Linked DNA regions of Homo sapiens. The protein of the gene in region 2 interacts with the protein of the main gene of each other region in a pairwise test. Each region holds a gene or a part of one and is shown on either strand. Other genes may lie near its edges.

Region 1 (6,169 bases), about 36 Mb from region 2:
AATGATTTTTCTACAGACAGAATCTCGCTACATTGCCCAGGGTGGCCTCCAACTGCAGGTCTCAAGCCATCCTCCCGCTTCAAGCCTCCCACAGCGCTGGAAATACAGGTGTGGGCCACCATGCCCAACCCATATCACATGCTTAACAGTGATATGATAATGCTGGTTCTATGCATCTATTCAAGTACGTTTTCAAAGAATTTTTCCCAAGTAAAAAAGCTCATATGTTCAATGAAAACAATTTGGGAAAAAATTTAATGCTGACCTGGAAAAACATTATATATGCTACTGTCATATATTTAACATATAAATGCAAGTATATTGAGGAAAATATTCTAAAATGTCCACAGTAGTTAATGCTGAATGGCGGGACCCAGTGGCTTTTCATTTTCCCCCATTTCCCAAATTGCCTCCCGTTACCTTGTGCTACTTCAATCTGTGAATCCCAGAGCCTCCCCTGCAACCCGAGGACAAGGGCATGCAAGTCCGAAGGTGCCTTCGCTCGCCGAAAAGAGACTCAGACACGGAATCGTAGCTCAGTTTTATTTTCTACAGAAACAAACATGTAAGCCGTCCTCCTCCAGCGACAAACAATCAGGCCCCCACAATGAACTGGCCACTCGTGCTGGGACCATTCCCTAGGGGAGGAGGCATGACCTAGGAAGGGGCGCCAGGCTGGGCTTAGCGCCTCTGCCCTGAGGGAGGCTGAGCCAAAAACACGGGCAGAAAGCACTGCGTGATCCACATCAACAGGGAAAGCTGCTGGAGACAGGAGCTGATGGAGAGCTGCAGTTGGCGGTGGTCTGCAGCAGTCAGTCGGCTAAATGTGAGGGGCAGAGAACATCACGTTAAAGGCGACACCTCTGCACCCATCTCCCTGGGCTCCCTCGGGTGGCGGCGGGCCTGGTGTACCAGGTCTCTGTTCTGAGACCCTGTGCTGGGGTGTTCCCAGGTTTCTAGCAGCCTGACCGTGGGGTGTAGGCGGATCCCAGCCCCCACCCTGCCACGCTGTGACCGCCACCCACCCAGGCCCCATCCCTGTCCTGGTCCTGAACTGACATAGTCAGTATGTTGCCGGACACAGTGAACTCCTTCAGAAGCACCCCTGGCACGGGAAGCGGTGGGGCATCCTGGGCCAGGCTCCTGCGGGCCAGCTCTGCTTCCATGGGTGTCGCGAAAGGCATGGCGAGGTAGCTGGTGGGGGCCCAGTTAAGGCATCCTCTCCTAGGACTTGGCCTGTGGCTCCGGCCTGCTGCTTACCCCAGGCCAGCTTCCCCCTCCCCCACTCCCCCACCCCTCCCCCCTACCCCGGATTGCCCAGCCCATCCCCCCCAGGCTGTCTCCCCAGGCACTGGCCCAGTAGCACACCCCACCCAGCTGTCTTGGTTCCCCACTTTCCTTTGCTGCACCCCAAGCTGACTCCTCCATGCCCTTACAAGACCCCTCCCCACCCTGCCCCCTGTGGCATCACCCGGCCCCCTCCTCATCACTCGACCCTCCATCCCAACCACCTCCCGCCACCCGCTCCCATCTTGCCCCCTTCCCCCCACCTCCTGATCCCCTCCTACACCTGGGTCCCCCTATCTCCTGGCCCCTGCTCCCCTCCCCGCATGACCCGGTGCCCCTCACCCAATCACCCAGCCCCTCTCCCCCACCCCCACCCCCTCTACCTCCCAGCCCTTACCTCCTCCCCTCCTCGCAGCTGGCCTCTCATATCCCCACCTCCCAACCCCCACCCCCACCCCCACCCAACCACTTACTCGCATCTCCCCCGCCTCCTCCCCCACCTGGCCCTGCCCTCCCCATCTCCCGGCCCCCACCTCGCCACCAGAACTGTCAGAACAGAACAGAACAGAACAGAACAGAATACAACTCAAGCAGGCGGCTCTCCGGCCCCCTGGCCCCGCATCTGCAGCATCCATTCAGCCCTGAAGCCGCGCCGCCATGCGGACCCCGCGGGGCGCCTCCTCCCGGCCCCGAGGCCCTTGCTGCCCCTGCGCCCCGGGGACCTCTGCCGCCCGTGGCACCCGCCTCTCCTGGGCCGCCAGCATTGCCCCCTGGGCCATCAGGAATGCCAGGGCCTCCTGGGCCATCAGCATCGCCCGTCGAACCCCCTGTGCCCCGGCCTTCGGCCTGCATGGCTCCGGAGCCTCTGCCCGGCTCTCAGAGAGAAGGTCAGGGCCCACGAGGATGCGGAGGCAGAGAGGCTGCAGGAAGTTCCGCCCCCTGGCGTGAGATGGGCAGCCCGGGATCCTCAGGGCGCCTGCGCACAGGGGCCCTACTTCCGGCCCTGGGAGACCCCGAGTGAGCCCCGGAGCACGTGACCGGTTCTCACCAACCCCGCCCCTCCCCAAGAGAGCCCGGGCCGGAAGGTGGCCGCAATGCCAGCTTGGACCCCTCACCCCTGAGCAGCCGGCTGTCCGCCGGACCCCTGTCCCGGGAGCCCTGCAGGGAGTCAGGCACTGCGGGGCCCAGCCTGTCCCATCCCCCGGGTCTCCCTCACATCGAGGAGCAAGACGGGCCTGGGAACACGGGGCCGGGACTGTGCGGCCATCGTCCCGGACCCTGCCTGCCCTGTCCGTCCTTGGGGGAGCGCCCAGGACAGACCCCGGGGGGCAGGCCTCTAACTGGGCTCAGCAGCCTCCGTCCCTGTCCTGGTCGCCCAGCTGGTGGGGTAGCTGGAACTGCATGTCTGGTGGGCGTGGCCTCGCGCCAGCCAAGGTCTCCCAGGCGCCAGGTCCAGCCAAGGTGGACGGGAGGGCCCAGCGGGACCCGGGGCCGGATCTCACTCCTGGGTTCAACGGGTTCTGTCCCTGTCCTAGTCGCCCCGCCTGGTGGGGGAGCTGGAGCTGCGTGTGGGGTGGGTTGCGGGTGGCCTCCCACCAGCCAGGGGCTCCCGGGCTCTAGGCCTGGCCCAGGTGGACAGGCGGGACCTGCTGGACCTGAGGCTGGGTCGGGCCTGGCTCCTGGGTTCGGCAGTATCAGTCCCTGCCCTGGTCGCTCTTGCCTGGTAGGGAGCTGGGAGGTGACCCTGTGTCTGCTCAGTGGTGATCTATTTGTGTGTCTGGAAGGGGGTCAAATCCACGGGACAGGTACCTCTAGAGGCATGCAGGGGTGAGGGCGGCACGGCCCCGGGAGCTGAATGTCTGTGCCAGGCACACCTGTAGCAACAGGAGGTGACCAGACAGGGCCTAGCCCTGAGGAAGGGGGAGGTACTGAAATCCAAACCACTCTCCCCCACCTTCCAAATCCAGGAATCAGCAGCCTCTGCACCTGGGAAAAGCATATTGGCACTCATGTGGAAACTAAAAACGTTGATCTTTTGGAGGTAGAGCAGAATGATGGTTACCAGACGCTGGGAAAGGTGGGGAGGGTGGGGAGGTTAATGGGGACAAACATATAGTTGCATAGAAGGATTAAGTTCTAGTGTTTGATAGCACCGTAGAGGGACTATAGGTAATTATTTATTGTATATTTCAAAATAGCTAAAAGATAGGAAATGTTCCCCAAAAAAAGAAATGATAAATGCTTGAGGTGGTGGAGATCCTAAATACCCCGACTTGATCATTACATCGTGTGTGCGTGTGCATGTATCAGAATATCACATGTATCCCATAAATATGCAGAGTTATCATACATCAGTTAAAAATGTTTTTACTTACAGAAAAGAAAAATTCACCCAAGCTCTTGCGTGTACCTCCAGTTTATTATTTTCACTGCTGTATTTCATTACATATATTTCATTAAATGATGAATTTTAAAAACCAGAGAACACAACTTGTTAACACCTGGAATAGCTGAAAATCAGACATAACCCGGTTAGTGATTGCCATCCTTCCTGTCGTCCTCTGCTCAGTCTCCCCATTCTCAGACAGAGGCAGGCTAAAGTTCTTACCTTCAACAGGTCAGGGAAGGGAGAGTAAAGTGCATGTGACCCTGTCTTAGGAAGCAGGAAGACAGAGGGAGGGTCTCCGGGTCCCCATTATTTTCCCGGCCTATTATCCTCAGATCAAGTCAAGAAAGGAAGTCCTAACTGATTGAGAGATTCCTGGAGATACTGCCACTGTCCTGGAAGTCTCAGCCAGCCACTGGACCGGAAATCTCCATCAATATTTCAGCCAGAGCAACGTCTGCCACTAGATGGCATCAAACTCCAGCCGGGAGCAGGACAGATTTGGATGGTCCAGCGGGCTTGCCTCATTCATTTCATTAACCCCACAGTAACACATTTTCACATTGTATGCGATTGGATTTCTTGGAAACTACCTATTACATTACGGCAGAGTTTTATAGTCCTCTAATTTATCCATTCTGCTGATGATGGGCAGGCATTTGGATAGTTTCCAGCCCTTGGCTATGAACATGCTTGTACAGGTCTCTTGAAGCACATGTCCAAGTTTTTTTTTGGAATTGCTGTATCACAGCCAATACATATCTCGAAATTTACTAGATAATGCCATGTTTTCCCAAGTGGTTTGAGCCAATTTTCGCTTCCACCATAATGTGTCAGCGTACATACACATAGCTCAACATTCTCATCAATATTGACGGTACTAATCCGTTCTCGCATTGCTATAAAGGACTACCTAAGACTGAGTAATTTATAAAGAAAAGAGGTTTAATTGACTCACAGTTCTGCAGGCTCTACAGGAAGCATGGCTGGGGAGGCCTCAGGAAAGTTACAATCATAGCGGAAGGCAAAGAGGAAGGAGGCACATCTTATATGGCCAGAGAAGGAGAAAGAGAAAGTGAAGGGGGAGGTGCTATACACTTTTAAACAACCACATCTTGTGAGAGCTCAACATCACGAGAATAGCAAGGGGGAAATCGACCCCCATGATCCAATCGCCTCCCACCAGTCCCCTCCTCCAACACTAGGGATTACAATTCAACATGAGATTTGGGTGGGGACACAAATCCAAATCATATCATTCCACCCCTGCCCCCTCCCAAATCTCATGTACTTCTCACATTGCAAAATACAATAATCTCCTCTCAACAGTCCCCCAAGTCTTAACCCATTTCAGCATTAACTCAAAAATCCACAGTCCAAAGTCTCAACTGAGACAAGGCAAGTCCCTTCTGCCTATGAGCCTGTAAAATCTAAAACAAGTTAGCTACTTCCAAGATAAAATTGAGGTACAGGCATTGGGTAAATACTCCCTTTCCAAAAGGGGGACATCGGCCAAAACAAAGGGGCTACAGGCCCCATGCAAGTCCAAAACCCAACAGGACAGTCATTAATTCTTTTTTTTTTTTTTTTCCACTACAAAATAATTTATTCGAACACACAGCTACAGCGCGAGACTCCTATGTACAAGCACATTGACGCTCCTGACTACCCTCAACTAGAGGACCCTTTTCTTCCCCCTTGCCTTGCAGACCTCTTCTATCGAATCTTTCATGTACTGGATCTCCTCGGCCAGGGAATCCGCCCTCTCTTGCAGAGCCTCGTTCTTCTTTTCCACCGCTTTGCACTCACCAGTGAGGACCTCCTGCTCCACCCTCTTCTTCTGGCGATACCTAGTTCCTGCTGTTTGGTTTTGCTCCATTTTTTTTTCAGCTTCTTATCCAGTTTCTCACCCTTTACTTGTGCTGCTACCATCTTCTCTCCAGGAGGGTCATAAGGTTTGGGGCAGGCAGAGCCACAGAGGACACCTGGAGATGGCGGGCTCCTACTCGGAGAGCCCCTGGAGGTAGAGGGAGAGCCCAGATAGGACTCTGGGCTCATACAGATGCCACTATCATTATCTGAGGGGGCGTCTTCCTCCTTTGTGCAGTGAGGGATCTTGGAAATGTAAGCAGTGGAGTCTGGCTTCCTAGCTCCTTCAAAGATATCCACTTCACTGCCCAGCTCTAGACTAAAGGAATAATCTGGAGTGGAGGACTGGACCCCTGGGGAAAGGGGAAGAGGTTGCAAGAAGGTGAAGGGGGCAACCTGGTCGGGTTAAACTTTCTGGGAGATGGCAAATCGGGTTCACCATCTGGGGGGGGCTCCTTAATAGTCTCCTGGACTGGGGGGGCTCCTTAATAGTCTCCTGGACTAGGGGGGCAAAGAGATCACACGAGTCATCCAACGTGGCCAGAAGCTCGTCTGGCATGGTTTCCAGGTCATCTATACCCAACAGGGCATCAAAGTCGAACTCCTTCAGATCAGTTTTCTCCAACA
Region 2 (6,267 bases):
GCGTGAGCCACCGTGCCCGGCCATCTGGTTCCTTTAAAAAGATTTTTATAGGGTTCTACTCTATTTGTCTTATTTACATTTTAATAATAAAAAGTCCTTATCAAGTGTTTCTGTCCAGGTCTTGATCCTCAGAACCCCGGGGAGAGGTGGGTTATGGAGGCTAGTTGGGCATGACTGTGATGTGCTAAACTGAACACCATTTCCTCTGAAGAGTTAATTATGATCCTGCCCAAAATCCGATTCCTAACTGCACTGGGGAAAAATTAGATACACGTACAATTAGATTGCTGAAGTAAATGCCTATAATAAAAATAATTCTTTCAGCTTTGTTCTGTATTACACACAGAAAATGAATTATTTTACTTTACCTTGGCATATACCATAATCTAGGCCAAATCCCTTAAGTATTTTATATTGTTTAGTTCAAACTGAAAAAAAAAAGTGGACTCTGAAGACAGATGATCTTAGCATCATTCTGAACTTCTTTTAAGCATCCATTTGGATAGATACGGAAATGGTCTAAGAACTAGTGTCATTGTAGTAAAAAAAAGATAAAAGCAAAAACTGCACACTTCTAGTATTGTTATTTCCCCCTAGGTACATGGTAAACCACATCAATAAATAAAGCAATGGACTTTTCAGCAATGTACGCTTAAATAGTTACAAACATACATGTAGAAAAAAGGATACAGTAGTGCAAAAAATAAATTATTAAAACAGAAAGAAGTATGAACATTATTTTACACAATGCTCTATAAAACCTGAACCATTTGGAATGAGACCTCAAGTCAGTGAAATTATACAGCAACATTATTAGTATCTTTGTTTTCACATTTCAACCACACAGTCATTGATCTATGAAAGAAAGAATATTAAAGCAAAACCACTTTAAACTTTTGGAAATTTTAATGTTAAAATCAAATTATGTTTTTCTGGGCTCTTAAACACCTCTGCTGTTTATGTAGTTATGCAGCATGTCAAGAAGCATCTTAAGACAGAAAGTTTCAAATAGGTCACATTCTTTTGGTCTTTCTACTCAATTTCTCTCTGTGATCAACAGCAGGCTGATGCCTCTGTTTGACACCCCCTTCTGTTAAGATATTATTGCAATTAGATATATTTACAAGAAGACTCCCCCCGACGGCAGTGGGGAAGGTGGGAGCTCCTCTTCGGCAATCCACTCACTAGTTTTGGTTTCGGGATATGAAGGCCAGGACTCGTCGAATACCATTCAGTCTGTCCTTTAAGGACCTCATTGCTAGGAAGGGGAGCTGAGCTCGGCTTTCCAAGGGAAGAACTGCTAACATCCACCAGCACCAGGCTGGGCCATTCGGGTTCATCTGCAACAGAGAAACACAATGGAGTCATCCTATTCCCATCCAAGAACATCAGTCTGCAGAGTTCCAAATGCTCAAGGTAAAGACCCCAGGTAGAACAACTCCATGTGGCAGATTGCTAATTGACCCTATATCTATTTTCCCCCTTATTTTAGCAGGGCATATAGCCACCCAGAAAAAAGACTGCATTTCTCAGCTTCCCTTGCAGCTAGGTGAGGCCATGAGACAAAGTTCTGGCTAATGAGATGTAAAGGGAAGTGATATGTGTAACCTCTTGGTCATGCTCTGGGAAAGAAGCATATGCCCTCTGCCTTCCTCTTTCTCTCCCTTTCCCCTAGCTAGAACATGGACGTGGTGAGGATCAGCCTTTCTCAATCAAGAGGATGAGGGAGACATTTTAAGGATGGTAGAGTTTTGTGATGAAGGAGCCTGGGTGCCTGAATGCTCTTGTGGAATAGAGCTGCCCTAACTGTCCAAGACTTAGCCCCTCCATCTTGTTTAAGCTCCAGTCATTTTTGTTTCTTGTTAAAGCAAACCAACCAGTATCCTAACAGATACACCATGCCTCCTAGCCAATGTGATTTTACAAGCTGGTATCTACTATGTAGTCTCTTCCACTTCTAATATTCTGTTGAGGTCCTTTGGACTGATGCATTTAACATTCAGGCCTTCGATTCCCATGACCCCTTGACCTTTGCATGTCTTTTAAGTCCCCTCATTTCCTTGATGTGGCTGAAGGCAATAGTCCATGTATACCATGTCACTATACAGGGCCATAGCTCTCTTCTCCCCTGAAACCAAAGGCTATGATTTACAGTCCCAAAGAATCACAATCTCACTTTGCAAAAATTCCAATTAGAAAACATTCACATTAGAAATATATTCTGCCCCAGGGCCGGGCACAGTGGCTCACGCCTGTAATCCCAGCACTTTGGGAGGCCAGCGGGTGGATCACGAGGTCAGGAGATCGAGACCATCCTGGCTAACACGACGAAACCCCATCTCTACTAAAAATACAAAAAATTAGCCGGGCGCGGTGGCGGGCTTCTGTAGTCCCAGCTACTCCGGAGGCTGAGGCAGGAGAGTGGCGTGAACCTGGGAGGCGGAGCTTGCAGTGAGCTGAGATATGCCACTGCACTCCAGCCTGGGCGACAGAGCAAGACTCCGTCTCAAAAAAAAAAAAAAAAGAAAGAAAGAAAGAAAGAAATATATTCTGCCCCTAGATTTCCTTTTAATAAAGAGCTTTCCCATTCCACATAAATCCTTCCCCAAAGCAGCTTCCCTGGCACATATTTTAGACATTGGGTACTTATTTCCTTCTAAGCCTAAAACGAGCTTTCTGCCCACAACTTTCACAAGTTTGGTTTTAGGACTATAGAGAACCATTCTGGTCAAAGTGCCTACACCTGAAATTATTTGGCTCCAAATTGGTTCCTCTGATCGTCACCAAATCTCACTGCCTTCTTTGCTTCTTTGTGCCTCTAACTTCATTTGCATTCTTTTTTGTCCCTCCCTGAAGCTGGCAATATGCTCTCCCTCCTATGATCAGTTCTGAATATTAGACTGATGTTCTGAACTTTCTTTCCAAGGATCACCAACAAAGATATTTAAGCTGGTATTAACACTTGTGGCAGTTTCTAAGAAACATCCTCCTGACAGAACATGCTTATTTGTGGGACCACTGGGGATGCAGCATTGACTGGAGCAAACTGGGATGGGTATGGGTTTTTCTTTTTTGCTGGTGCTGCTGCTGCCAAAGCAACATAATAACAGAACTAAGAAAAAAGGAAGTGAAACCCAAGATTTCAACTTTCTCTGTCATTAGCCTTTATGAATCACACTGTAGCATCTGTGTTTTCCCGTTACCATTGCTGATCTGTATCTTTTGCCTAAGGGAGAACGCTTCCCGGAAGGTGAAGGGGAACATTAAGCTTGATCGTGAGTTTGCTCAGAGGTATATGCTGCAGTCCTGACTCATCGTGGCCCAGAGCCAGGAGCTGGGTCACAGGAAGCACTAACTGGCCTTTCTCCCTTGAAAACTCATGATGCCTTTGCATGGGGGGGGAAAGAAGCCACCTTTGTGGTCTGAGGAAAGCAAGACATTTCATTTAGGGAACAGACTGGTGTCTTAGAACCTCAGAATGCAAGAGGAAGAGGGGGCTTTAGAACCCTCCTCATGTCAGAGATGGGACAAAAGTTGAGAAAGGGAAAGGAATCTTCCCAAGGTCATACTGCTAGTGAGGTAAGCAGGACCAGACTTTTGGTCAGAATATGCATATTGAGATTTTTTCTTTTGTGACAGAGTTGGGGATGAGCATAAGTAAAGAATCAATGTAGGAGAGCCAGCTTGGAGCATAGGAAGAGATGGTCGTGAGGAAATATGTGGTTAGGATATCTCCAGCCTTATCCTAGAAAGACAGTATTCCCTGATTTATTCCAGGCAAGCAAAGCTTAGTGAAACTTAACCATCTCCACTCTCCTAGGGAGCTTCTGATCTGCAGCTTGATCTTTCAAATAGGCCTATCCCCCAGGAAGAACACTGATCAGTAGAACCTAACAAACTACTGTCTAGTATAACTCAACTAACAGTATTTAATGATGAACAGAGCTGTTCAGCCCTGGTGAGGACAATAGCAAGGGTCTAGACTTGCAGGGCGAAGCATAGATAGACCGAGGCACGAAAAGTTTTTGTGGTCTTGCAGTTGTAATCTTATAAGGGTAGCTGGCCCTATCCCCTAGTTCCCAAAGCAATGAGGGAGAGGGTTATGAAGTTACCTGAAAGCAGCAGCTTTTGGTCTCAGCTCCCAGGATACCCTTCTCTTAAGTCCTGGCCTTTGCATGTAACTTGTCACCCTAACACTACCATGGTGTGAATCTGGACTCCCATGGAAGGTTCTTCTGTTGGTGATATCTATGTTCCCATTCTCTTATCTTACTTAGTTCTCAAAACCTGCCTTGGATCCAAGTTCCTACTGCTTTACTTTAGTTACCCCGATTCTAACTTGGGATCTTTTTGGTCTTACTCATGACGCTCACTGTGCAGCCAAACAACACCAAATTAAATCCATCTTCCTCTCTGCATTCGATGTGCTGAATGGCAGCCACATACCCATCTAATCACAAACACTAGGCACTCTCTTCTAGTGGGACAACCCGTTTAAAAATAGACATTTTTCTATACCTGAGGATCGGCGTCTTTCTCCGGCATGGGACCAAAGTGATTGAGTATCCGATTCTTTAGGGATAATTTGAGCGAATGAAACCACAATGATGCTTGCTGATAGACACAGTTATGTAATCCCATGAGCTCAGCACAATCCTCTCCCTGAACCTGAAAGTATCAAAGTGGAAGTGAAACATTCTGTACCCTCTCCATCATTCCCAGAGTCACTTTTGACACCTGATTCGCTTTGAGCATCCATCCTGCCTTCCTATGGGAAGGCTCACCCATTCAGCTTTCTCCTTTGCTTGATGTGAAATGCCCCTTAGTCAAGTGCTGGACAGTGTGTAGATACTGCTGACCATGGAGGAAGGAGAAAGGTTCAGCTGGGTAGATTAGCTGAAACAGCAAAACATGCAGAAAACCAGAGATTCAAACCGGCCTGAGTGGAGGCATGTGGTTAAACCAGGTTATGCTGGTCCATGCCTTTGCCCTTTTCATTTTTACATCTGTTTTCTCATTACTTGCTGGAAAAGACACAGGAGTATGTCAGTCTCAGCATGTAACTATCTTGGTCAAACACATTTACTCAGTCATCAGATATTTATTAATCTACTATGTAACAAATGTAAATATAAATGAATATAGGATTATTTACCTCTTCTTCCACCCATTACCTCAGAAAACCAAGGATTAACTAGATGTGTCATCTTTCTGCCTTAGGGGATGATGGATTATTGGGAAGGGCTCTTAGCCAGGTTACGTACTTTAAAATACAAATGCATGTGTGGATCTATAATTGTCTCAAAAGAAAAAAGTTTAAAATATACATAAATCGATAGATAAAATATATATGTATAGACCCACCCCAGATCCATTCCTTGCAATCTTTGGCAGAGACTTAACTCCCAAGCTGAATGAGCCCCAGGGTTGATCTAGGATAACATTTCCTATGCATGAATGCAACTCAGCAGCTAAGCAGAGCCAGGACAGTAGGCGCCCTCACTGCCATAGTGCAACTGGACAGCAATCCAGCAGCATTCAATGTTGCTGCAGCAATTTGGTGTGAAATCCCAAGGCCCTCAAGGGTTCTGAGAAATCCTTTCACAACTATCTTTGTGTATCAAGTTACAAGGATAGCCTGGCTTTGGGATTCTTGGCACTGGCCACCCTTACCTTTTGGTCTTCAATGTATTCAATGTCGGCTGTGTTGTAGCCATCCCGCTGGCTCTGATGGAGCACCCTGAAGCGCCTCTTGCCTATGCTGTCAACCACTGAGCGGCCATCAGCAAAGAATTGAACATTTCTGATCTCTAGGATGCAGCCATATTCTGCAAACCTGTTTATTGAGAATGGAGTCGAGAGACTAGATCCTTGATGAGTTCTGTTTCCCTGGGCTGGCACCCAGCCATTTCTGTAGCCCCATGCTGTGGCTCAAGGGACTTCTGCCTATTTTCCTGTCCCTGGGTTACAGCTTCAATTACACAACAGGCAGTGCCTGTGTGAAGAAAAAAAATTCGTAATGTATTCGTGTAACTGCTACCATTTATTGAGCACATACTATGTGCTGTGCCAGTGCTATGGTTTGAATGTTTGCCTCCTCTACAACCCATTTTGAAATTTAATTGCTATTGTAACATTATTAAGAGGTGGGACATTTAAGAGGTGATTAGGCCTCCACCCTCATGAATGCATTAATGCTGATATGGTGAAAGTAGAGTAGGGTTGTTATTAATATAAAAGGGCAAGTTTGACCCCCTTCTTTCTCTC

The links. The genes of interacting proteins can lie anywhere in the genome.
Region 1: the proteins of LONRF3 (region 2) and CTAG1B interact in binary tests that used the Homo sapiens proteins (3 or more experiments, as listed by UniProt).

The regions. Positions count from the first base shown.
Region 1 is NC_000023.11:154,617,080-154,623,248, forward strand, and holds CTAG1B (cancer/testis antigen 1), read right to left. Parts: upstream 2,204-6,169; 5' UTR 2,140-2,203; coding exon 1,871-2,139; intron 1,195-1,870; coding exon 1,060-1,194; intron 821-1,059; coding exon 682-820; 3' UTR 530-681; downstream 1-529.
Region 2 is NC_000023.11:119,012,608-119,018,874, reverse strand, and holds the end of LONRF3 (LON peptidase N-terminal domain and RING finger protein 3), read right to left. Parts: intron 5,996-6,267; coding exon of another isoform or gene 5,974-5,995; exon of another isoform or gene 5,837-5,973; coding exon 5,674-5,836; intron 4,669-5,673; coding exon 4,519-4,668; intron 1,341-4,518; coding exon 1,185-1,340; 3' UTR 520-1,184; downstream 1-519.